Regions from separate parts of the Homo sapiens genome. Here all the other regions are linked to region 3. Evidence: fine-mapped expression QTL. A gene starts in region 3. Each other region holds a variant in brackets. All regions are shown on one strand. Distances are between the middles of the regions. Region 1 holds the start of ATP4B (ATPase H+/K+ transporting subunit beta). Region 2 overlaps LINC00452 (long intergenic non-protein coding RNA 452). Region 3 holds the start of TMEM255B (transmembrane protein 255B). Region 4 overlaps TMEM255B (transmembrane protein 255B). Region 5 overlaps TMEM255B (transmembrane protein 255B).

What was found. PIP is the estimated chance that this variant, and not a neighbour inherited with it, causes the effect.
Region 1: its variant is the best candidate, but not a certain one, in a credible set for the expression of TMEM255B in prefrontal cortex (ROSMAP, PIP 0.62).
Region 2: its variant is the best candidate, but not a certain one, in a credible set for the expression of TMEM255B in fibroblasts (GTEx, PIP 0.67).
Region 4: its variant is the best candidate, but not a certain one, in a credible set for the expression of TMEM255B in fibroblasts (GTEx, PIP 0.59).
Region 5: its variant is the best candidate, but not a certain one, in a credible set for the expression of TMEM255B in minor salivary gland (GTEx, PIP 0.76).

What each region holds. Positions count from the first base shown.
Region 1 is chr13:113,656,258-113,661,257 of GRCh38, reverse strand. It overlaps ATP4B (ATPase H+/K+ transporting subunit beta), which reads left to right and starts at 3,060. Exons shown (of 7, transcript NM_000705.4): 1 at 3,060-3,225. The coding sequence starts at 3,114. It also overlaps a transcript of GRK1 not described here. RefSeq lists an enhancer at 3,241-3,741. The variant G/C (reference allele first, on the strand shown) is at 2,056.
Region 2 is chr13:113,903,513-113,908,639 of GRCh38, reverse strand. All of the region lies in intron 3 of LINC00452 (long intergenic non-protein coding RNA 452), which reads right to left. Among named protein-coding and RNA genes, the nearest start is that of LINC00452, 11 kb to the right of the region's middle. The variant A/G (reference allele first, on the strand shown) is at 2,383.
Region 3 is chr13:113,757,070-113,762,196 of GRCh38, reverse strand. It overlaps TMEM255B (transmembrane protein 255B), which reads right to left and starts at 2,971. Exons shown (of 9, transcript NM_182614.4): 1 at 2,882-2,971. The coding sequence starts at 2,927. RefSeq lists enhancers at 2,252-2,753, 3,310-3,811.
Region 4 is chr13:113,807,828-113,812,954 of GRCh38, reverse strand. TMEM255B (transmembrane protein 255B) reads right to left here. Exons shown (of 9, transcript NM_182614.4): 9 at 1-1,219. The coding sequence ends at 1,052. Among named protein-coding and RNA genes, the nearest start is that of GAS6-AS1, 5.2 kb to the left of the region's middle. The variant G/A (reference allele first, on the strand shown) is at 2,254.
Region 5 is chr13:113,791,148-113,796,274 of GRCh38, reverse strand. It overlaps TMEM255B (transmembrane protein 255B), which reads right to left. Exons shown (of 9, transcript NM_182614.4): 4 at 1,038-1,127. Among named protein-coding and RNA genes, the nearest start is that of GAS6-AS1, 22 kb to the left of the region's middle. The variant T/C (reference allele first, on the strand shown) is at 2,672.

The DNA of each region.
Region 1 (5,000 bases), 100 kb after region 3:
TTTTGACTCATGAGTATTAGAAGTATGTTGTTCAGGTTTCATATTTGGAGGTTTTTCTGTTATCTTTGTTATTAATATCTAATTTGATTCCATTGTGATTGGAGAACATACTCTGTATGATTTGAATTCTTTAAATTTGCTAAGACTTCCTTTATGGCCCAAGATACAGCTTATCTTGATATATATTTCATGGGGACTTAAAGAGAATGTGTATTCTCTGTTGAGTATTCTGCGAATGTCAATGACATCCTGTTGGTTGATGATGTTGAGTTCTTCCGTATCCATGCTAATTTTCTATTTGGTTGTTCTATCAATTGTTAAGAGAGGAGTGTTGAGATCTCCAACTATAATTGTGGATGTGTTTATGTCTACTTTTAGTTCTATCAGTTTGCTTTCCATATTTTGCAGCTTTCTAGTTTTTCATTTGTTTCAGGCTTGTTTGTAATTGCTATTCAAGCATTTTTATCATGGCTGCTTTAAAATTTTTGGCAGCTAATCCTAACATCTCTGTCACCTTGGTGTTGGCATATATTGTCTTTTTAAATTCATTTTTAGAATTTTTTAATTTTTTAGCAGAGATGCCCAGGCTGGTCTGGAACTCCTGGTCTAAAACGATCCTCTCAGTCCAGCCTCCCAAAGCTCTGGGATAACAGGCATGAGCCAAAACACCCAGCTTTGTATTAATTCATCTTAAAATCGTCCTCGTTCTTTGTGTGATGAGTGGTTATCTACTGAAACCCAGACGTTTTCATATTATTTAATCCTTCTCTTTTTACTGGCTTTCTCTGACCCCACTTCAGCAGCAAAAGGGAGAGGCTTCACCTTGTTAACACCATGTGGGGCCAGAAGTCTAGGTTTCCCACTGGGAACCTTTGGGTGGGCTCCTGAGGACTGTTGGGTGGGTGGGTAGCAGTCCTGGCTTTCCATATGGTCTCCACTGACACCACAGTGGGAGGTGGCCTTGTCACTGTGTGGTGGTCACAGTCCTAACTTTCTACTACGTTGTGTCTGACACCACTCAGATGGGGGGAGAGAGGGGTGACCGGTGGCTGCCAGATGTGGGTGGGATTCTGGGCCCCCCTCATTGTCTGGCACCCAATTTGTATAGAGCACCTAGTTCTATGTTTTCAGAGCATGCTGTGGGGAAACTGCCCTCTACCAAGGTCTCTGGCCCTCCTCCCCACACGTATGTGTCCAGAAGAAGGTCATTCTGATAACATGTGTACAGCTCAGCACATGTACCTGCTTCTGGAAATTCAGAGACTACATTAGGAAGACTAAATTCAAAGATGTTTAGAAATAATTCATACTTTGTTCATTTCAAGAGCATCTATACCCTTCACAGACAACAGTTGCTGCATCCAGGTGTTGTCAGACCCCTGGCACTCTGGGGTCCCAGGGCCACAGTCTGTGAACAATCAGACTGTGGCCTTTACTGCCAGACCCTGTGTTCTTATCGCCCTAACATTCCAAAGTCAGAAATGGGTACAATGTTAAAGGAAGGATAGGTCCATTAAGAAATTATGGCTGGGCGCAGGGGCTCACGCTTGTAATCCTAACACTTTGGGAGGCCGAGGTGGGAGGATCCCTTGAACTCAGGAGTTCTAAACCAGTCTGGGCAACATAGGGAGACCCCATCTCTACAAAAAAATAAAAGAAATAAAAATTAGAAATTAAAAAAAAGAAAAGAAATGATAGGAATCCAGGCTAAAATGACATCATTCCATTTGAATTTTAGGGCAATTATTTTGCAAACTCTAAATTATCCTAAAAAATTAAAGCAGCGTAATGCCTAGAGGAATTTTGTTTCTTCTAAGAAATGAATTTGGTTACACGGGTCCCTGAGAGGGACGGCCTAGAGTTGACAGTATGGGAAACTCTGCATGTAATTCTGGACACACAGGGCTAGTCGACTTCGAATCATATTTGTCAGAAGGCCCCTGAGCACATTTCATTTGCCCTGCATTCCCATCAACCTCCTGCAGAGATGGGCACTGCAGCCAGCAGGCAGCAATGGCATCTGCCATCCAGGACCCCTGTCTCCAACAGCAAAGC[G/C]TCTGAGCCGGGGTTCTGAAGTGCGCCGCCCAACAAGACTGCCTGGGAGCCCTCCACGTCCTGGTGCTCGGACCCATGGGCGAGAGGCTCAGGCAGAATCTCCGGGCGGAAGTGGGCAGTGATGACTTCATGGTCCCTGCCCCGGCCCTGTGACCCCAGTGCACTGCCCGGACCCCCGGTGACCCCGAGGTACTGCCCAGGCTGAGCATCCCCCACCTGGACCCTGCCTTACTCCCTCCCACCAGCACTGTTAGAAATGCAGTCTGGGGCCCCCACAGGACTCGCTGGGCTGAATCTGCATTCAACAGATGCTCAGGGCTCCTGTGCACTTCATTTTGAGGACCACTAGATTTAGGGGTTTGTGTTTATGAATTCCTCCATGGACACAAAAAAATCCTAAAGGGCCCTCGGTGCCACTGCCCTCTGGGGATCTAAGAGGCTATTGCTGCTCTGGGTGAATCTGGGAGGCAGAGGAGTCCCCGGGGACCCCTGTGTTCCCTGCCAACCCAGCTCCAGCTGCCAGGCTCACCCTTCCACTGGGTGACCCAGAATCGGGGCGGCCGCAGCGGGGGGCCCAGGGAGCCGGTCGCCCCTCACTCGCCTGCCTCACGCCCTCCCAGGCCAGGGATGCGGCCCCAGCTGGCTCAGCCCAAGGTCGTGGACACAGTGGGTCCAGGCCGGCTCTGCTCTGACCTCAATCTCCCTCCTGAAGGAGAGGAGGGAAGGGGAAGGGCCTGTGAGTGCTGCTCACCCCGGAACGTGCCCTCACCGCAATCAGAGCAGACAAAGCTGCAGCCAAGGGCGTCCCAAGAGCAGCAGGGTGAGGAAAGCGGGCCTGGCCCGCCCCAGGGGCAACAGCCGGGCTGCACCCAGCCCCTGGTGTTTGGTGAGGCGATGGCCGGCGCTGATAAACGGCCCTGGCCTCTCCCTGGGATCCTTCGCCTGCGATGCCTTTGACCTCTGGCAGAGGAAACTATAAAGCCCAGAGGTGGGCATCTGGCCTCAGTCTGGGCGTAGAGGGTGCAGGGAGCAGACGGGAGGATCTCAGGCCAGGGACGATGGCGGCTCTGCAGGAGAAGAAGACGTGTGGCCAGCGCATGGAGGAGTTCCAGCGTTACTGCTGGAACCCGGACACGGGGCAGATGCTGGGCCGCACCCTGTCCCGGTGGGGTACGTGCGGGGGGCGGGCCGGCTGGGTGCATGGAGGGGGCCGCTCTGAGGACGCAGCCTCCAGGTGAGCTCAGGAGGAGGGGAGCAGAGGGCCCCTGACAGTGAGACCCCGATGCTGCCTGGATGGCGTGGACGGGCTTCGGCCAGGGCCTCACTTGCCTCCCAGGGAAAGCGAGGGTCCCCAGAGCATCCTGAAGGCTGAGTTGACCTGGAGCCCCAGCTGCAGAACGCCGGTGGAGGGCGTCCACAGACTGGCCCCAAATGTCAGCCGTATGTCTGAGAACAGCATTTTAAAAGTATGTTTCTAAAGTGAATCATTTTGAAAATAACGTGAAAGGTGGCAACGGTGATTCCTTGGTCACACAGATTCACGCAATGACCTGAATAAGGGGCTCTGCCGAGACGCGGCTGCCAGCCCCTTTCCGGGACACCCGCTGGCGTCCAGATGCGGAGGTGGGGAGTAAACCAGGCCTGCCTCAGCCTGCAGCACCTGCGCCTTGTGCGAGGTCTGCCCTGCAGGGTCCTGTCCCCGTGGCTGCACAGAGGCGCGGGCAGCCTGGCCCTCCTGGGAGGAAAGCAGATGCCTGGGCCTCCAAGGCCACACAGGTGGTGGAAGCGTCTGCGTCTACATCAGGGCTGCCACACCCGTTCCGGGAAACGCCCTCACCCCTTATGAGAGAGTCTGGAGGAAGCACCTGTGCGCCCCCACCTCCCCCTGCGACCCCTGGGCGTCGGGATGCGGCTGAACTGGCTGGCCTGGTGCCGTCCCCGGCTCCCAGGGAAGGTCAGGCCCTCCTCAATTCCCACGGTGCCCGGCTCTGGGGGTCCCAGAGCCGAGGTGGGAATGCAAAGCCCCAGGCCCGCCCCACCTGTGTGTGTAGCTGAGACGTGCTGGGAATGCCCGTGACACGCTGCCAAATCCCCCACACTCACCACAGTGCTGGTGAAGGCTGCAGCCCCCGCTGGAGGCTCCACGGTCTCAAAGGGCACCAGAGCCAGCTGGAGTCATGGGCGCATTTGAAGTAGAACAAATACCCCGTTCCTAGAGAGGCAGGGACCGGGGGCAGAAGGGCCTCCTGGGCCAGGCGGGGCGGCAGAGCGGGAGGCCAGGATGGGGAAGGAGCTGAGGGCGGGGGCTGGGCTGGGGGCTGCCGGCCAGGTCCTTGGAAGCCCCATCTTTTGGGCCATTCTAGATGCTGAGACTCCCATGTGCCGCCTCCTGGCTGCAGGGCCACAGAGAACCTTCTGGAATGGTCTCACTGCCTGGCCGGTAGACATGGCCTCCGTTTGGGATAAGAAAGTCTTAGGGCCCCAGGAAAACACAACTCAAGTGAAATGACAAAAACAAAAGGAATAGGACACGTTATTCTTACTAATTGGGGGACGGGTGCAGGTGCAGGAGAGGCAGAGTGAGCTGCACCCGGCCGGCCCCAGGAGCTGGCGGGAATGGGACTCTCAGTCACCTCCCAACCCCTCCCCTGTGCACTGCAGCGTGCCCTGAACACCGTGGTGCAAGCGGGGGCCCAGGAAGTGCAGGGAGCATGGCCCTCCCGAGCCTGGGCCCAGCCTGGCCAACCTCGGGCTCCTACCCGGGAGGCAGGGCTGAGCCGCCTGGTGGAGCTGAGACTCGCCACAGAGTGGGTCAGCAGCCACTGGGGAGACACGCACCGCCCACATCTCCACTGTGCACCACGGGCCCCAGAGCAGACCCACAGGACCCACAGCGGGGGAACAGAGACCCCTGCCGTCACGAGCGTAGGTCCCCGGGGGACAGG
Region 2 (5,127 bases), 150 kb before region 3:
TTTTTAAAGTCAGTGGAAAACGCACTTGAATGTGTTCTACGTGCCAGCTTTTATTCACCCTCCTGGCTGTACATCGAAAGCCATGAATCTCCCTGCTGAAGACAGGCTGCCTCTCCCTGGAGGCTTCCCATCTGTTTTTGCCCAACACATTTCCACAACCCTTTAGACTTAGAGATAACCAAGAGAGAAGAAAGGTGGGGGAGGAGGAGGAAAGTCTTCTGCATTCCTGGGCCCCACCAGGCCAGCAGATCCTCCCGGTGGGAGCAGAAGTGGGGGTGGGGAGGCTCAAAGAGCAGCACCTGCAGGGGCAGGTGCCGCTGACACCCAGGGAGCCCGACAGGACCCTGCCCTGAGCCCAGCTGTCCCAGAAACCACCTGGACTTCAGCCAAGCGCAGTCCCTGTAAGGTATTTAATGGCATATCCAATCCACGAAGCACCGAAAGGCTCCCTGGCTTCCTCCTACCGGGACTTGAGAACTTCTTCAGCCACAGAAGCAACTCAGGCTCCCCAAATCTATCAAAGAAGACCACAGGGACGTCTGCACCATGCACAAATTGAGAGGAGCCTCCTGACCCTGAACGTGAAACACCCGCACCCTCAGCCCAAAAACAGGGGGCTTCTCCAGCTCAGGGCTGCAGCAGGAGACCGTCTGTAGCCACAGGTCCTCTAGAAGCTCTACCAGTGCAGCAAGAGCAATCAGCAAATAAACAAAGTGTGCAGTATTTGAAAGAAAGAAAAAGAAACTATCACCACCTGCAGATGACACATCCAAGCGTCTCTTTGTGCCAGGCCCTGTATACATTTTCCAGCCACTCTGTCTCATTCCACACACATTTTGCAGAGAATCGGGACCTGCCCAAGGCTTACGTCTTACAGATGCTACTCCTGGAATGCAAACGCAGGTCTGGCTGATTCCAGAGTCAGAACTTCAAGCCAAAAAACTTTCCCAAACACCCCAAAGGATGGACTCAAAGTTAGTAAAATTAAGAGAGGAAATTACAATGATGGTGAGTAAAATCAATATAGAAATCCAATAGCATTCCCAGATGCTAGCAATAACCACCTCGCAAGCAAGAGTGAGGGGGAGCCTGTTCGAAATAACAACCCAGCATCTTAAATACCCAGGACTTGTTAGGCCAAGAGATGAGTACAAAATTTATATTGAAGAAACAACAAATTTTGTAAGGAACTATAGGAAAAAATTGGGTCAGTTGAGAGATGTCAGCATGATACCAAAGGCAGAAACCAGAGATGGGAGGACCGGTAAGTCTGAGAGCATAAAAATATAAAACCCACCATGTACACATTTGTAAAGCAAACAGAAATATAAAACTCCACTAAGGGACATGAAAAAGCAGGTGACTAGATGCAGAAACATGCTGAACACTTAGGAGCCCTTTTATTTGTTGAAATATTTTCAAATAAGTGAAAAAATCAGGTAAAGCAGGAAATTGACAATGATACATATACATCTCAAATGCTTCCTTTTAACTTAAAATATATGAGTCTGAATTGATTTGATTCTTGTGAGAACATCTCTGTGAGGTCTGCTCTTTGAATTTGTTTTTTCCTGGCAAAAAGAAAAGAAATTTTAAAAATCTTATAATTCATCACTCATGGTTTTACGCTTTATTTCCTTAAATTAAGGCAAGAATTAAAGATGCTGTCATGGTGATCTGAGGGCAGAATCCCTTTGAATGTCATCTTCCTCCAATTTTTACAGCTTTCTTGCATATATTTGGTTTTGCAGCATTAAAAACACTTTGCCAGTTTGTCTCCACCAAGCCTTCCTGAGCGCTCTCCCACTCTGCAGTCCTGGCCCATTCCCAAGAGGCAGAGATGCATGCAGAGGGCACCAGCGGGCCTGGCAGCCACCCTTGGCTCTGCTGAGCCTTAGCTGTGGGAGAGGCCACCTGGGCCCCCGGCTCTGGATGTGTGTGGAGGGATGGAGGGTGCAGGCTGGCCTGGCATGTCGGCTATGTGTGGCCAACCAGAAGAGCTTGGCACCACCCTTGACAGGAAAACTCAATATTTGATTCCCTAATTCCTCCCCTAGGAATTTTTCCTAATGGAACTCAGTGCCCACTTCATAGTAGTGGTTATCTCTGCATAAATTTTATTTCCTTCTTTGTGTTTTCCTGTATTTTTCAAATGGTCTGCAATCTACACGGATTACTTTTATAATTAGAAAAAAATTAATTGTAAAAACATTGTTTGAAGTTTAAAGAGTGCCATCTTGGTTACTACTCAAATCTTTATACTGTCCTTACGTTTTTCAGTGTTAACCCAAACTGTGACGCCCATCTCCCTAGGACACATCATAGGAAGGCCTGCTTCAGTGAGAATGCACTCGAGATAGGAAATTACCCGTGTTGATAAGC[A/G]GGGCCTGCCTATGTTTTTAAATTTCAGGCTCCCTAATAAAAGGAGTAGGATAAAATGCCAGCATGCTGACATTTCAGGACACTGCCGTCCGGCGGGGGACTGCGCACAGCGCTGCCCACTCTGTTCTGACCCCCACTGTCCTCTGACTCCTCCTGGGTTGTCCTGCCATGTTCCCATGGGGAAGGTGTCACACCCAGTGCCAGTGGGTGATGATCAGAGGGGATATGACAGGGCTCTAGGTGGTACCTGGATGGATATTTTTTAAAATAGTTACTAATTTATTTTAGTGTGCTGTAGAAAAAACCAGGCAGCACAATGGACCTTCAATCTCACACAGATGTATTTAAATGTATTTAAATGTAAACATATTTTACATTTAAATGTATTTAATGAGTCTATTGAAGATGCCCTAGGTAGACAATAATTCAGAGCACATGGATATGGCAAAACTTTGAAATCTGCACACAGAAGGGTGCAATTTGGGAAACTGTCATATGAAATCGCACTTGGGCTGCACATTACGAACACGGCAGGTCGTATCTGTGTGTTTTCATTGCTTTTAAATCTCTTTTAGCAGCTCATTCTGTGCAGGCACCGGTTCTGATTTACTTAAGAAGATGGTCTTAACTTCCCTTTGATGGGTATCGTCATCCTTTCTCTTAGTTGGTTTCAGTATTATTGCAATAGGATATACTGAAGTTTTGAATAATTTATTAAACGAATCTTTACTTCCTAGATACAACTATCTTGACTTTTTTCTAAGTACTACACTTTTGAAGTAAAATAAAGCCTCACCTCAACAACAGAAGTGGGGTCCAGAACATCCCGTGGGTAGGATGTGGGAGCTTTCCTGCAAGGTCGAGTGGCCCCTGCTGGGACCCTACCTCTGGCTTAAACTGTGACGGAAAGATTCTGGGTATTGTGGTTGCCTGGAGCTTCCACGATTCAGCAAGGATTCCAGGACTGTCCTGGGGAGTAGCTGCCGTTTAATTAGCCTGACAGAGAGATCGCTCCTGGAGAAGCCTGTAGACGCAGGACTCCTGCCTTGTTGAAGGATCAGATGTAGCAAGTGAAGAGGGAAGGTGAGGAGGCTGCCAGGCAGCCGGTCAGTGGGTGCCGCTTAAGAGAAAGTGTTGGCCAGGACTGCAGGGGCAAGAACCAGGACACAGGCCTTTGATTTGTTACCTGAAGGGCCTGCTGGGGCTCGGATGCAGGTTGGTGACAGACTCAAACTTGCCATAACCTTTTCCTCAATGTATCCTCATTCCAAAAGTCTAGGGGATTAATTCCAAAATAGTTAGATAGCCCCCTTGTATTTCTTCGTGGGTGTTTTTATGATCCTTCCTCTTTCTTTATCACCTTAAAGCCTGACAAGCAGATGCCTGGGGATGGGGCTGGGGTGATGAAACCTTTTAGCATTGCTTGGGATGAGGCTTGCTGCCTGTGAAATCAATGCCAAGATGCGCTTTGAGTAAGGAAACTTTCTGGAATTAACCTTTGAGTTATTTATTTCCATGTTGCTGATAAGGGCTTGAAAGTTCTGTCTGGGTTGCAAACACGGCCCTGATTGCTTATTAACTGCGTGATCTCCTACAGGTCACTGATTCTTCTCAAGCCTCGGTTTCTTTATTTGTAGCTTGAGGCAGTGACACCTGCCTCATGGGGTCGCTGTGAGACAGAGTGAGGCCTCTCTGCCCACATGCGCTGCAGCATCCGGCACACTGTGTGCTCAGTAGGCAGAGACTGTCATCCTTCTTGTTACAACAACCACCACAGTTGTCCCTGGTATTTGCCAGTGTATTAGTCCATTCTCACACTGCTAAGAAAGACCTAAACGAGACTGGGTAATTTATAAAGAAAAAGAGGTTTAATGGACTCACAGTTCCACATGGCTGGGGAGGCCTCACAATCATGGTGGAAGGCAAAGGAGGAGCAAAGACACATCTTACAGGGCGGCAGGTGACAGAGTGTATGCAGGGGAACTGCCCTTTATAAAACCATCGGATTGTGTGAGACTTATTCACTATCACAACAACAGCACGGGAGAAACCCGCCCCTATAATTCAATTACCTCCCACCAGGTCCCTCCCACAACACGTGGGGATTATGGAACCTACAATTCAAGGTGAGATTTGGGTGGGGACACAGCCAAACCCTATCAGCCAGTGAGACTTTGGGACCCACCCTTCCAGGCTGCGGCTCCCTCACTCTCATCCTCACGCACTTCTGCGGTGCCTGAGCTGCAGTCACCGTGGTAACTGGGATTGACCTTTTAAAGTATCTGTTATAACTACAAGCTTAGTGTCAAAATACTATTAACCTGTTTTGCCTTTACAGACTTATTTTTAAAATAGTGTGAATTCAGTTGTGTTTGATTAGCAGCTTTTCACTGGAGTTGCCGCCCAGCGCAGCGAGGGGTCTTCTGCAGGCCTCGCTGCCTCTGCACTCCTGTGCCTCCAACGGAGCAGCCATTAGTTGGACCAGGCTGGTCTTATTCTCCAGCTTCCTCATTATTTGGGGTGAGTTCCTCACAGCCTCCTGTTAGTTCTCCTGATTTTGTGTATTCTTATTCTCATGTTGCCCATGTTTGGCCTAAGAGAAGGCGCCTCTTGGCCGGCTTCCTGGAGGACTCTTGCTTTCTTGCATGCCACAGCAGTGACAGCTCCGGCAAGGCCCTCCTGGTAAAGTCATTGGCAGATCCCTGTCTTTGAAAGTGTTCATATTTGGAAGAAAATGAGTCCAAA
Region 3 (5,127 bases):
TATAAGGTCAGATTTTCAAGAGAAAGGGGCTTTCACTTAGGAGAAAGATAATTAAAATCACCTGAATAATTTCCTTGATTTTTTTTTTTTTCCTGTCCCGGAAATACTGTTATTACACGCACTGTGAAAATTAAAGTGCTCCTAAGTGCCCCAACTATTAATTAAAATATCTACCAATAGGTTTCTATTGCAGAGGCAGCTTACAGGGACTGGACCCAAACCATTCTGGGTCTGTCCAGACCCATTGTGTGGTCTTGGGCGGCCATTTAATCTCCCTGAGCCTGGGAGAAGAGAACCCTATGAGAGCCAAGAGCTCTGTCTCTTGTTTGTCGCCGGTTCCCGGGGCTCAGATGAGGACATAGACACATCTCCTGGTACGGAATGAATGAAGGCACTTCAGTCTCCTGACCTGTAGGATGGAAATCATGAGAACCACCTGCTCACCCACCTCTTGAGATTGTGATAAGCGTCCAGTGAGACACGATACGTGGGCTCTCATATAGGTTTTTGTAAATGGAATGCATATGCTAATCATCAGGGTGGTGTGAACTTTAAGACGGCGTAGCGGCTATTCTTAACCAGCATTTCTCCCACTGGAGTTGCAAGGAGGAGTTCTGAGATGTGAAGCTGAAGGGGCCAACAGCTACCTCTCTGCTATCAAGTGCGCTGATTTTTCTAATTCTAGTCTTCCCCAGGTGCAGCCCATCTAGGATATCTCAGAATATCACCTTGTCACTCCCCACCAGCCCCCACTTCTCCCATCCCACCTGCTCTCCCCTTCCTGGCTCCTTCCCCAGCCTTAGCTGGAGGAGCTGAACCACATGAGCCTGTGCCCACGCCAGGTCCTACCTGGAAGACACGCGAGGCTGGAGGTCAGGTTCTTCCTGCCCCTCAGACCCATTTCCTCTACTCCACAGAGCCAGGAAGGGGAATGTCACAAAGCATGGGAGGTGGCACTGCTTGGAAGGGTTCTAAGATCCGGCCTTCCTGCCAGCCGGACCTGGAACGCCCAAAAAGAAGAGTGAGTTCCATTTAATCATGTGGGGACACCAGTCATGGTGTCCAAGTAACAATCCCAGGTAAAACTGTAATCACTCAGCCGTCAATTCCTCTTTCGTCCTGATTTTACACATGCCCAGGGTAGTGAACAAAGAAGGGCAAAGCAGAAAAACCCATAATCCTACCCCCAGGTACCCCAAAGCAGAAAGACTATGGTCCACCCCCAGATACCCCAAAGCAGAAAAACCCACAATCTACCTCCAGACACACCAAAGCAGAAAGACCATAACCCACCCCCAGACACACCAAAGCAGAAAGACCATAATCCACCCCCAGGCACACCAAAGCAGAAAGACCATAATCCACCCCCAGATACCCCAAAGCAGAAAGACCATAACCCACCCCCGATACCCCAAAGCAGAAAGACCATAATCCACCCCCAGACACACCAAAGCAGAAAGACCATAATCCACCCCCAGATACCCCAAAGCAGAAAGACCATAATCCACCCCCAGATACCCCAAAGCAGAAAGACCATAACCCACCCCCAGATACCCCAAAGCAGAAAGACCATAATCCACCCCGACACACCAAAGCAGAAAGACCATAATCCAACCCCAGACACACCAATGCTTTATACATTTTAGTAAAAGACCAGCTCCAAACAAAAAGACCCATAATCCTACCCAGATACACCAATGTTTCATATACTAAAAAGACCAGCTCCAAGTATTGTTTTAAGGTTTAAAGTTCTTTGTCAGAAGAAAATCTAAGTCAGATGCTATTTTTAAACATTAAGGCATTCTAATAATGATAAAACTAGTTAATAAATAATAATAATAGTTATCATTATTAAACACCAATAGACTAATCCACATTAATACATTTGACCATAGAGCATTTTGCTTTAGATTGGAAGGCATATAGTGGTTTCTTTTAGAAAGAAGCCAAATTATTTGATTATTTTAAGTAACAGTAATTCGTCCGGTTCCGAACGATGCCGCAGTAAAAGGGTTGTGAGGTTAATCCCCAGAAGTTTGTGTTGGATTATTTCTGAGGGAGCGGCAGAGCCCCCTAGACACCACTCCATCCCTCCCTCCAGCCGTCAGGGCTTCACTTTCTAGGGAACTCTGTTTCTCTTTTGTTCTGAAATCTGCCCAGCCCTCTCCCCCTCAGGAAGACACCCGGCATCCTTCCAGTCCTGGCCACTTCCCGGCAGAGCCCCCGAGCCCGGCTTGCGAACTGGTGAACACGCAACAGGTTTCCTGTTTTCCCAGCCTTTGCCTGGCTCCGAGGCTGCAGCGGGCTTGGTCTGGGAAGTGGAAGAATTGGAGATTCCGTGAACACACCGGGGAGAAACACGAGAGAGGGGCGAGCCGAAACCAAGCAACACTGTCCAGTTCTGTGAGCGCCTCTGCACGTTCAAACAGGAAAAGGCTACCTCGCTCTTCCAAACGAAGTTTTCCCGGAAAATGGTGTAGGTTGGAATAAACGGAAGAGATGGGGAAGGAGCGCACTTTGGGGCGCCTGTTCCTCATAATAAAACGTAACAGGGAGAGAGAGGCCAAGAGGAACGGACACAGAGTCAGAGAAAGGCAAAGACTGAGGAGGCAGAGACAGAAAGAGCGAGAGAGACAGAGACAGAGACAGAGAGAGAGACAGGGAGAGAGAATGAATGAACGAACCGGTAGGACGAACGCCCGACCCCAGTGCGAAATGCAAAGTGTTCCAAAGACAGAGCTCGAAGGAGGCGGAGGGACCAGACCCCGTGCCGCGTCTCCGCGCAGGTTCCGCCCGGGCCGGCCGGGGACCTGTAGTCCCAGCCCCGGGGTCCCCACGCTCCCCCGCAGGAGCCGAGACGAGCCCCCAGCCCCGCGCTCACCTGCGGGGTCCAGCAGGCCCAGGGGCCCGGGCACCGGCGGCTGCATCCCGAGGCCCCACCCGGCTCTCCCGGGGCCACAGCCACAGTCCCGCCGCCAGGAGCCGCCCTCGCGGCGCCGCCCCTTCCCCGCCCCCTGCACCTCCCCGCGCTCCGCCCGCCTCGCGTCCTTCCTCGCTCTACTCTCCCTTCTCCGGCGTTTCTTCTCCTCCCTCCCCCGCTGCGCCCGCTCCCCCTTCTCCCCTCCAGCGGCCGCCTGGTTTCTGGAAATCAGGACGCCGCGGCCGGGAGTGGAAGCCAGACCCCAGATGGAAGGTGCCTGGAGAGGACCCTGCGGACTCGGGGTCGGAGCCCCGGCCTGGGACGGTGACCCCGGGCCTTCCGCCGCTGGCGCCACGCTCAGCCCTTGGCGGTGCCGCTGAGTGGGTCACCACGGGTTCGCCTCCCCATTGGCCGGTGACGGAGCTCCTTGGGGCTACAGGGCCAGCCAGCCCTTGATCTCTGGGTTCAGAGGGTGGTACATGGTGTTACAACCCAGTCTGCGAGGAACGAGTAAATGAGGAACAAACGCAAATGAGTAAATGAGGAACAAACGCATCTGGCACCTCACTCAGCAGCCCCGAGGCAGGGCTGACCCGCCTCTCCAAGGCCTGCGTCTTTGTGTCCACAGCACTGAAGTTGTTCTGAGTAAAATCTGCTGCTGGAAAGAAGGGCAAGGAAACACGGGGCCAGAAAGGGTGCCTCGTACAGCAGCAGGAAAAAATAAAGATCCTTCTAAACGTATTTTTAACATCTTTGAGTCAAGGACATCAGCGGTCCCGTCACAAAAGAAGATGCTTGAACGATCAATAAACTCAGCCCCCGGAATTAGGGGAACGCTGTGGGAACAAGAGGATGCGTTTCACCCTCATCCTATCAGAAAACCCCAAGGGTCAAACAACTTAAAGAATGTTAATGAAAACGTGGGAATCTGCATTCACCGCTGGGATCACGCATGGTGCCACCACTTTGAAAGCAACCTTTAGGAAAATTGAAGCAAGTAGATGACAAGCCAGAAAGAAAGCATATCTCTTTCTAGATATGCCCAAGAACACAAACATAGATCTGCTCCTTCGAGCCAGGAGCCGTGGTTCTCAACCCCGGCTGTCGTTAAAGTCATCCAGGAATGTCTTTAAAAGAAAAAACATTTCTGCAGCACTGAACCCAGACCAGATCAATTGAACCAGAACTTCTGGGAACAAACTAATAGCTAAGAATTCCCTAGTCATTCTAATAGGCCATCCACTGTGAGAGAGAAACTACCACAAGAAGTATGCATGTGCTAGAAGATGCGTACAGAATATTCCTCACAACACTGTGTGTCCAAAGCACCGGACACACCCTGAATATCCAACACGGGGAGAAGCGATAAAGAAATGGGCATATACAGCGAAATACCACATGGCAGTTAAAATAAATGAGAGCTACATGGATCAATGTGGATAAATGCCAAAAACAGAACGCGGAGCAAAAATGCAAGTGCACAGTACGGCAGCGAGTACGACAGCAAGTACGGCAGCGAGTATGGTACCATTTATATAAAGTTTTAAACCATGAAAATTAACACTGTTCACTCAGTGAGCCTCTCAAGACTTACTAAACATCCGCGATATACCAGACACTGTTCCAGGTACTTGGGATGTATCAATGAGCAACGTAAACAAGGATCCTGGTGGGGAAGTGAGGCCATGAATAATAATACAATAAACAAGAAAAATGCACAGCATGTCAGAGGGCAACATGCTATGGAATACACACACACATATACACATACACACATGCAGACATACACACATGCATGCACATACACACATACACACACATGCATATATACACATGCATACATACACACATGCATGCATGTGTGCATACATACATGCACGCATACATACATGCACATACACACATGCATACATGTGTGCATACATACACGCACACATACATACACATACATACACACATGCATACATACACACTTATACGTGCATACATGCACATATGCACATATACATACACACATGCATGCATACACACATGCACACACATACACATGCACACATACATGCACACACATGCACATACACACACATACACACTTATACATACACACACATACACACATACATACATACACAGCCAGGTAATGCAGGCCACAGAAAAAGGAAAGAGAGGTAAAGAAACAAAATAGAAAGTATAGTGTGGGAGAGGGA
Region 4 (5,127 bases), 51 kb before region 3:
CACCCGGGACCCGTGACCCACCCGGGACCCGTGACTCACCCGGGGCCTGTGACTCACCCGGGGCCTGTGACCCACTCGGGACCTGTGACCCACCCGGGATGCCTGTGACCCACCCGGGACCTGTGACCCACTCAGGACCTGTGACCCACCTGAGACCTGTCCTGTGACCCACCCGGGGCCTGTGACCCACCCGGGACCTGCTGCTTCCCAGGCGTGCTCACCCGTCTCCCCAGGTGTGCCCGGCAGGTGCATGCTGGGCCCGCGGGGAGCTAAGCTGGTTTCCACAGGGAGTGCTGCGGCCCCAGACCCTGAGCCAAAGGACCCCGAAACACCGTCCCCCACCATCCCAGCGGCCAGGGGTCCTGAGACAAGGTGCGGTGAGGGAGAAGCCGCGGAAGGACAGCGGAAGCCCAGGCGCCGTAGCTGGGAGACAGCTCAGGGGAAGACCCTCGTGCCAGTGGCCCAGGCAGATTTGCATCCGGGGCTGGGAAAGACAACCGGGCCCCTGGATTCTAACAACTCACAGGCGGTTAGACACAGCGCTGGGCGTTGGAGCCGAAGCGTCCTTCCCTTCCTGGCATACGTCAGGAGCACAGCACGAGGGGCGGGTGGCTTCTGCCCTGCGCTTCTCCAGGACACAGATGCACACACGAACGTGTAACGCACAACACATGTCCACAAACAAGAACACACAGGCAGGGAGGCCGGGGCTGCACTGTCTTTGCAAAATCATAATAATAGCTAATTAATTAAGGGATGTGAAAACACCAGAACAATTGCTCTCAGAGGAGGAGGCCGGGTGGGAACTTTCAGCGCCATTTGATGTGAGCAGAGCCCAAGCCAAGGTGTCACCAGCCTGGGTCTGGAGGGCCCCACTCCCTGCCTGGTTCCAGCCTCCCTCACCAGTGTGCCCAGGGAGGAAAGGAGGGGACAGACTTCTGGAACATTCTCCCGGGTTCTCTAGGAGGTTGGCCACAGAAGCGGGATTTCTAGAGGCTGCCTTTTTTTTAAAAAAAAAAACAAACAAGTTATCTTTTACTCCACGCCTCTATCAGGGTGCGTAGGGGGGTGGCTTCTCCCCCGGGGGAAAGTAGGTGGGTGCGTAGCACGGTGGAGCCTGGCCGGGAAGCCCAGAGCCAGAGCTGCTTGGAGAAGGGGGCTGCAGGTCCTCAGACGAAGCCAGGGCAGAGGAGGGCGCAACTGGGAAGCGGCTGCAGGGCTGCAATAAACAGAGAGGGCCCTGGGTTAGCAGGTGAGACCACCCCGTGCCGGACCACAGGGAAGCCTGACATATACCAGGGCCACTCACACGCTCCCCACCCACCCCGCCAACCCAGGGCCACCCGCAGACTCAGGGCCATTCACATGGGCCCCCCGCAGACCCAGGGCTATTCACACAGGCCCCCTCAGACCTAGGGCCACTCACACAGGGCCCCCCGCAGACCCAGGGCTATTCACACGGGCCCCCCACAGACCCAGGGCTATTCACACGGGCTCCCACAGACCCAGGGCCACTCTCACGCCCCTCCCCTCCCCCGGAGACCCAGGGCCACTCTTACGTCCCCCTCCCCCACCGCAGACCCAGGACCTCTCTCACCGGCCCCCACCCCACAGACCCAGGACCACTCTCACCGGCCCCCCCACAGGCCCAGGCCCACTCTCACGGGCCCCCACAGACCCAGGACCACTGTCACGGGCCCCCACCCCACAGACCCAGGACCTCTCTCACCGGCCCCCCCCACAGATCCAGGACCTCTCTCACTGGCCCCCACCCCACAGACCCAGGACCACTCTCACGGGCCCCCACCCCACAGACCCAGGGCCACCAGAAGGAGCAGCCCCAGCCCGGGGCAGAACAGGAGAGGGTGGCCGGGGCCTCACTGGCACAACCTTGGCCTCCACAGCTGCATGGGGCAGGGGGTGGACGCCCCAGGAAGGGTGTCCTCAGACCACATCCCACTTCCTCACAGCCAGCGAGCCTCTGACCTGACTCCAAAACCAACAGTTAGGGTCCACCAGGCCTGGGGCCCCTGGGCTCACCCAACTCTTCATATTTGGGAAAGGCCCCACGTATGAACCCCACACGTCCACACGTCCAGCAGCGTGTGGCTGGTTCAGTGTCACCGTGGCTGACTCAGCGGCTCACACACGCATCTGGGTGTTGCCGTGGAGGCATCTTCAGGTGTGATTGACACCCTTGCGTACAGTGCCTCAGCCCCTGGACACGGACGGCCCCTCCTCTCCACTGAAGGC[G/A]TTAAGGAAAGAGGCTGTGGTCCCCAGGAGAAGTGGACTCTGCCCCAGTGGCCTAGGCACTCCCGGGGCAGCGTCACCCTCCCTGGTCTCCAGCCTGCCCCCTCCCTGTGGTTGTGCACCTGAAGCCCACAGTCATCAGCCAGTCATTCAGAATCGATGGATTGATCTCTCTCTTCATATGTAGGTACCTGTATTCTCCCATAGGCTCTGCTTCCCTAGAGAGCCCTGACTAACACACATAGACCCACCCAAGTAATTCTGAGACCAGAAAAGCGAAGAACGGCACAGATTTTAAATTGATACATTCTAGTTTTTCTCCAACTGCTAACACACATCTTAATTCTTTTCTTTTTTTCCCCTTAAATTCTAGGGGGAACTTCTAATCAAATTTTAAATAAATAAAGCAAACAAACTCCTTCTAAGAAATAACACAGGAAGAGTTTTTCAAACTCCAAGCTACCAGATGTGCTCTGTGCTCCTCTTGCCCCAGCCTGCAGGGTCCCATGAGAAGCCAGCTGCCTGTCTGAGCCTGCGTGTTCAGCATCCCCAGAGAAGCCAGCTGCCTGTCTGAGCCTCTCCCTGGAGAGCTCTGCACTGCAGACGCCCTGGGAGCTAGCAGGACCTCTGGATCCTGACAGCAGAATTTCTGCACAGGTGTAGGTAAGGCTGAGAATGGGGCCCTTCCTCAGAGGGACTGCAATGTTGAGGTTGACAGCCCAGGCTCATGGGATCCAGTGGTTCAGGGACACCTGCCAACCTCATTTCTTTCTTCCCCCGAAACTCACACAGGTTTCTGGCCACAGGCGACAGAGTGAGACACTAGGGAACATTCTCTCAAGTCTGCTGGGAGCTCCCAACTTCCAACTCTGTAGCACCCACTCTTCTTCACAGCAGATGAGCAGTTAAGGAAACTAAGGGGTAAACCCCAGGACCACAGATAAACCCCAGGAACCCATGGAGTAACTCCCTAGGAACCACCGAGTGAACCATGGAGTAAAACTCAGGAACCACGGAGTAAACCCCCAGGAACCACGGAGTAAAACTCAGGAACCACGGAGTAAACCCCCAGGAACCATGGAGTAAACTCTCAGGAACCACGGAGTAAACCCCTCCCCCCAGGAACCACAGAGTAACCCCTCCCCCCAGGAACCACAGAGTTAAACCCCCGGGAACCATGGAGTAAACCCCCAGGAACCACAGAGTAAACCCCCAGGAACCAGAGTTAAACCCCCAGGAACCACAGAGTAAACCCCCAGGAACCACAGCATAAATCCCCAAGAACCATGGAGTAAACATCCAGGAACCACAGAGTAAACTCCCAGGAACCACAGAGTAACCCCTCCCCCCAGGAACCACAGAGTTAAACCCCCGGGAACCATGGAGTAAACCCCCAGGAACCACAGAGTAAACCCCCAGGAACCAGAGTTAAACCCCCAGGAACCACAGAGTAAACCCCCAGGAACCACAGCATAAATCCCCAAGAACCATGGAGTAAACCCCCAGGACCATGGAGTAAACATCCAGGAACCACAGAGTAAACTCCCAGGAACCACAGAGTAACCCCTCCCCCCAGGAACCACAGAGTTAAGCCCCCGGGAACCATGGAGTAAACCCCCAGGAACCACAGAGTAAACCCCCAGGAAACACAGCATAACCTCCCCCCAAAAACCACAGAGTAAACCCCGAGGAACCATGGAGTAAAGCCCCAGGAACCAGAGTAATCTCCCCAGGAACCACAGAGGTAAACCCCCAGAAACCACAGCATAAATCCCCAAGAACCACAGAGTAAACCCCCAGGAACCATGGAGCAAACCCCCAGGAACCACAGCATAAATCCCCAAGAACCAAGGAGTAAACCCCCAGGAACCACGGAGTAAACCCCCAGGAAACATGGAGTAACCCCCCCCCCAGGAACCACAGAGTTACACCGCCAGAAACCACAGAGTTAAACCCCAAAGAACCACGGAGTAAACCCCCAGGAACCACAGAACAAACCCCTAGGAGCCACGAAGTAAACCCCCAGTAACCACAGAGTTAAACCCTCAGGAATCACAGAGTAACCACCCAGGAACCACGGAATAAATACCCCTGGAACCATGGAGTAAACTCCCAGGAACCACGGAGTAAACACCCCAGGAACCATGGAGTAAACCCCCCAGGACCACAAAGTAAACCCCCAGGAACATGGAGTAAACCGCCAGGAACCATGGAATAAACCCCCAGGAACCACAGAGTAAACCCTGGGACCACGGGGTTAACCACTGAATGACAGGGCCCCCCTAGGGACAAGCCCTGCCCACGAGTAATCTCACAGGGGAAGGGAGGGCATGTTTCTTAGTAACGGGGCAGGAACTCATCTTCTGCTGTGATGCCACGTCCTCCCCTGCACTTCATGCCTGGCAAAGCTGCTGGGTGCAAGGAAGGTGATCTCTTTAAATTGTCCTTTTTATTAACTGCTCAAAACCTCCCCCACCAAGTCACTGTTCCCCATCCCCCACTGTCTCAAGTGGGAGTATTTTCTGCTGCTAACGACTTCCATGGAACACCCTGAATATTTTCTCTCCATCTCTGTGGAAGCAGGGCCCCTCCTCCATTGTTCTTCTGAGGAGCACATGAGCCTCATCTGATTTGCCATCTCTGAAATCCAATTATCAGCGTGCGTATATTAAGCTCCCACACATGCTGGCCTGGCACAAAGGCTGGCTGGGCCATCTGAGGGCCCCAGGCCTCCCCAGAGGAAGAGGGGAACATCCACCCTTTGCGTAAACCCAGAGCCCCAGGGTGGATGAGGATGGAGCACCATGGGGATGAAGTGGATCTGCCCCTGTGCCCCCCACGTCCCGTAAGCCCGCGTGTGACGGGGAGGACCACCCC
Region 5 (5,127 bases), 34 kb before region 3:
GGTGTGTGAGGTGTGTACTCTGTGGTGTGTGCTATGTGCTCTGTTGTGTGTGTGCTGTGTGCTCTGTGTGTTGTGTGCTGTGTGCTCTGTGTGTTGTGTGGTGTGTGCTATGTGCTCTGTTGTGTGTGTGCTGTGTGCTCTGTGTGTTGTGTGCTGTGTGCTCTGTGTGTTGTGTGGTGTGTGCTGTGTGCTCTGTTGTGTGTGTGCTGTGTGCTCTGTGTGTTGTGTGCTGTGTGCTCTGTTATGGTGTGTGTGCTGTGTGCTCTGTGTGTTGTGTGCTGTGTGCTCTGTTGTGTGTGTGCTGTGTGCTCTGTTGTGTATGTGCTGTGTGCTCTGTGTGTTGTGTGGTGTGTGCTGTGTGCTGTGTTGTGTGTGTGCTGTGTGCTCTGTGTGTTGTGTGCTGTGTACTCTTATGGTGTGTGTGCTGTGTGCTCTGTGTGTTGTGTGGTGTGTGCTATGTGCTCTGTTTTGGTGTGTGTGCTGTGTGCTCTGTTGTGTGTGTGCTGTGTGCTCTGTTGTGTGTGTGCTGTGTGCTCTGTGTGTTGTGTGGTGTGTGCTATGTGCTCTGTTTTGGTGTGTGTGCTGTGTGCTCTGTGTGTTGTGTGCTGTGTGCTCTGTTGTGTGTGTGCTGTGTGCTCTGTGTGTTGTGTGGTGTGTGGTGTGTGCTGTGTGCTCTGTTGTGGTGTGTGTGCTGTGTGCTCTGTGTGTTGTGTGGTGTGTGCTGTGTTGTGTGTGTGCTGTGTGCTCTGTGTGTTGTGTGCTGTGTGCTCTGTTGTGGTGTGTGTGCTCTGTGCTCTGTTGTGGTGTGTGCTGTGTGCTCTGTGTGTTGTGTGGTGTGTGTAGTCTGTGTGGAGAGGGAAGTTCGTTGTGTAGGAAATGAGACTTACTGAGAGGAGAGACAGTCACTGGCAACCCCCAGCGTGGAGACTGACGGTGAAGCCGTCTGAGCTGAGATCTGCAAAATGAAATTGTACTTTTTTCACGTCGACTCTTTCAGCCCCGGAAAGCGACTGTGCACACAATGACAATGTACTCACAATGTGCTGTGCTGCAAATACGCCGTCCACGATGGCGCAGCAGAAGGCGGCCACCACGCCAAAACTGATAAACACGATCGCTGCCACCAGCTGCAACAGAAGGAGAGGTGTGGGTGCCCAGCTTTTACCAACCCCGGTTTTCAAACGCAAACCAATTCAAAGTCCCAGCTCGAGGTCGGGGCTTCTTTCACAGAACTGCCTCTTCTCACCTCTACCTTTCGTCCTATGACTTCCAGCCCTGGCCAGGCCGGACTCCACCCTGCGGGTCGTCCTCACGCGTCTATTCCGCAAGACCCACCCAGGCGCCTTCTGCACGGAAGGGCGTTGCCATCCCCGGGCCCTCGGCACGCGCCTCTGAGAAGCAACCCCAGACGGCAGGGCGTGTGCCCAACCCTAATGTGTGCTCATCACACGCACACACATGTGCATGCTTGACACAGGCCTTTACAGTCATCGGATCAGCTTCACACACTGTCGCACAACCTGCTTTTCCTACCTAATGGTCTTGGAGCTTGGAGCCAGGAATGGTTTATAGTGCGTTAGTTAACCAGTGCACTCTGATGGATAGTTAAACAGTTGGCAATTTCTTGCCACTACAAACTCTGCTATAAAGCGGGGTGTCCTGCCCTAACCCTAAAAACTAGCAGGGAGTCTCCATCCCCGTGGACCCCTGACCAGAGGGCGGGTGCTGTCATTCTTTTCTCGGTGCCTGGCTTGGTACCACGCTGGGCAGAGCAGACCCTCCTGAATGGCCGCTGAAAACTGTGGCCCCGAGTTGGCATCTCGCTTGGTTCCGTCCCGATGGATGAGTTGTCGGCTCGGGAAAGAGGTCCCAGTGACAAGCAGAACCCATCGGTAACAGCAGAGGGAGGGCCTGTGGCTCGGGCACATGGTGCTACACAGGGACAGGGGAAGCCTGAGTCTGTTCGGACCTGTCCTGCGCACCAGGCACGAGCGTGGGTGCTCGTCCAGACTCAGAGCAGAGCCGACCGAGCAGAGTGGTCTCCTCCTCACACTTGCAAAGACGCCCGGCAGAGGCACCCCGACCTTCCTTCTCCCTGGGGAGCCAAGTATGTGGAGAGAGGAGTTCCATCGACCGTGACCCTCACGTGGAACTGCTGTGGCCTCTTCCCCCGATGTCAGCATGGCCCTGTGTGTCCATCTCTGCCCCAGGCTGCACACCTATCGTCACCCGCAACCCAAAGAGAAGCCAAATCCAGCCCATCTGCCAAGGCTCTAACGCTACCCGCTGGATTCGCAGGTGGGACGCATTCCCATCAGGCCCCACAGCAGCAGAAGGCGGGGGGTGGGGGCTGGCGGGCCCAAACCTTTCAGGCCATGGACCAGTGGTGGCCGCCTGCCCCTCCCTCTCCTTCTGACCCTCCACACCACAGGCCCGCTGGGGGTCCTCCCTGGAAGCCCCATCAGAGCCGGTCCAGGGCGCACCACGCTGCTGGCCAAGCCCTTTTGCGGAGGAAAGTGCAGCTTCTTTTTTAAACAGTGGGCACCCTCACTGCGAGTCTGGGTGTTTTTATCCTTCAGCAGAGGAAGAGCTGTCAACTGGGGGCTTCCTGGTGAGCCCACGCTTGGCAGTCACCGATGCCACCTTGCATTAAATGTGAGTGATGAGGCGG[T/C]AGGGCTGGGGCAGCGGGCCGGAGAGCGAGTCCACAGAAGTCAGTGCGTCCTTGGGTGGGTCCCAGACCGGCACGGTCCCTGCGTGAGTCACAGAGAGATGGTTCTCCCACCTGCTGGCACCTTTCTTCTCAGGTGGGTCCCAGACCGGCACGGTCCCTGCGTGAGTTACAGAGAGATGGTTCTCCCACCTGCTGGCACCTTCTTCTAAGGCAACTTTCCTCCACAGCAGATCAGACGAGACATTCTGAGAGCTCAGACATCAAGCACGTGCCCTTCCAAAATACATACTTTAGGTTTACGAGAAGAGGTAGGTCTGAACAAAGTCCGGGCAGTTAGCAGGAAGCTGGCCGACACCCCTGAGCTCTGTCTCCCAGTGGCTGTGCGAGGGGGCAGAGGGGGACGTGGCCACCAGACCCAAGGGCAGCACAAGGGTTCTCGGGGTGGCCTTGGACCGGAGCCCTTACCCTCGCATCCCCCCTCCACCTCCCCAGGCAGAGCAGAGCAGAGCTGGCAAGCTGAGTCCTTCCAGAGCGTTCTCTGAACTGCTGGGCTGGACTTGCCCCTAGTGGTCCTTGGTTCCCCCTCTGGAAAGGGAGGTGCTGGGTTCACTGACTTATTCATGAGTGTCACGGACGCTCCAGCGTCCCCACGGGATACGCAGCCTGGTGCTGCAGGCGCAGACATGAGCAAAACAGGCACCTCCCCGCCCTTCCCGCGTCTCACGTTTCTGGCATTTTATCATCGATTGCCTAAAAGAAAGTTGAGATGCTCCCAGAAGAAAGCTGTGCAGAAAACCATGGCTGCATTAGCCTGGGTCTGAACCAAAAGCTTACTTCTATTTGGACTTTCTACAGGCTGTGGCAATTTAAAAATCTCCTCTTCTGCCTAATTGCTCTGGTTCGACTGACTAAATAATGACGGAGCCCATCGCATGGTGTAGCTGCCCAGTGTGCTGGAGGAACAGACAGATGAGGGAGGTTCCCTCTTGAACAGCTGACCCCGTCTGACGGCCACCATAGCAAAGCATAAGCCAGGGCTCTGGGTGCACACACAAGGAAGGCCTCATTGCACCCTGAGAAAGAAGGAAGGCCTGAACGAGTCCTGGAAGAATAAACAGAATTTCCTCAAGGGGAGACAGGGAAGGTGCTGGGGGCTGCACGTCGGTGGGACTGGGGCCCACTGAGGTGGGGCAGAGGCCACGATGTGCAGGGCTAGGGGTGAGCTGCAGCCACCATGTTACGGTCAGAAGGTCGTCAATGCCAAGGTTGTGTGGCCGAAGGCAAGAGACTTCCTTCACCTTCCTATTTTCCTGATGAAACTGCTGCATAAAAGTAAAATGACTATTATGCAGAGCTGTGTAAAAACAGCGGGCAGAAATTACACCTAACTGAAATTTCCTACATTCAGTTAGGTATAAATACGTAAAATACATTAAAAATGTAATTGTTTGAACAAATACATAAAAACACACACAGACGGCTCAGAGGGCAACATTTGAGGTTTCCCAGTCGGGGCCAAGCCCCTCCACCTTCCCAGAGGAAGATGAAAGCCGGCCTCCAGCGGGGCCGCGTCCCCAGCTCTGGGGCCTCCCGCAGTTCCGGGGGATGTTCCTGTCCCGCAGTGCACCCTTCTCGTGGGTGCCGGCCTGGATCAGGGGGCTGCGTGCCTCGCTCTAGCATTGCAGGGAGAGCGGCGTCACATCCCATCATGCCTGCAGACATGCTTCCAGCATTAGATGCAAGCACGCAGAGGGGCCGTGGTCCCGTCACCACTGCACACGCTCCTTAAGAACTCCCACAGTTTCTGTTGGGCACAATTCCCAACCAAAGAGGCAGAAGGAAAAAAGACTTAAAGATGAAGAAAATCACTTTAAAGCTTCCAAAGTTCTTTCGCTCGACCCATCCTTCTAATCCGCACAACTGTGACATCATCATCACAATTTGCATTTTGCAGGTGCGGCTCTAAGGACTTGGGGCTCTAAACATCTTTCGCTCAGACAGCGCCTCAGCTCAGGAGCACAAGCACCCCTTCCCTGCTCCTGGTTGAGTCACCACCCTCAGAGCCACTGGTGTCCCCAAGGGGACATCTGTCCACACGACGTCGCTCCCACAGATCCCTGAGGGGTGTGTGACCAGTGTGGTCCCCCAGATTCGTTGGGGCTGCCCAACGTTAGGAAGCCCACATCTGCCTAGTGGGAGCCGAAGCCATCCCAGGAGGATCCAGCGTCCCTGTCCGGCTCGGCGGCCGGCAGGTGCCACCCGCTAGATGCCCCGGCCACTTTCAGAAGTGGGTGGCAGGTGACTCATCCAGGCTCTGCTGGGTCTCTCACCGTAAATGCGTGCAGCAGAGACTCTGCCAGGATGTGCTGGCCCTAGATGTTCACCTTCCAACCCAGTAACCCCTCATGAATGCCATGGAGCCAGGAACCTGCTGCAACCCAGCCCTGGGCAGGACA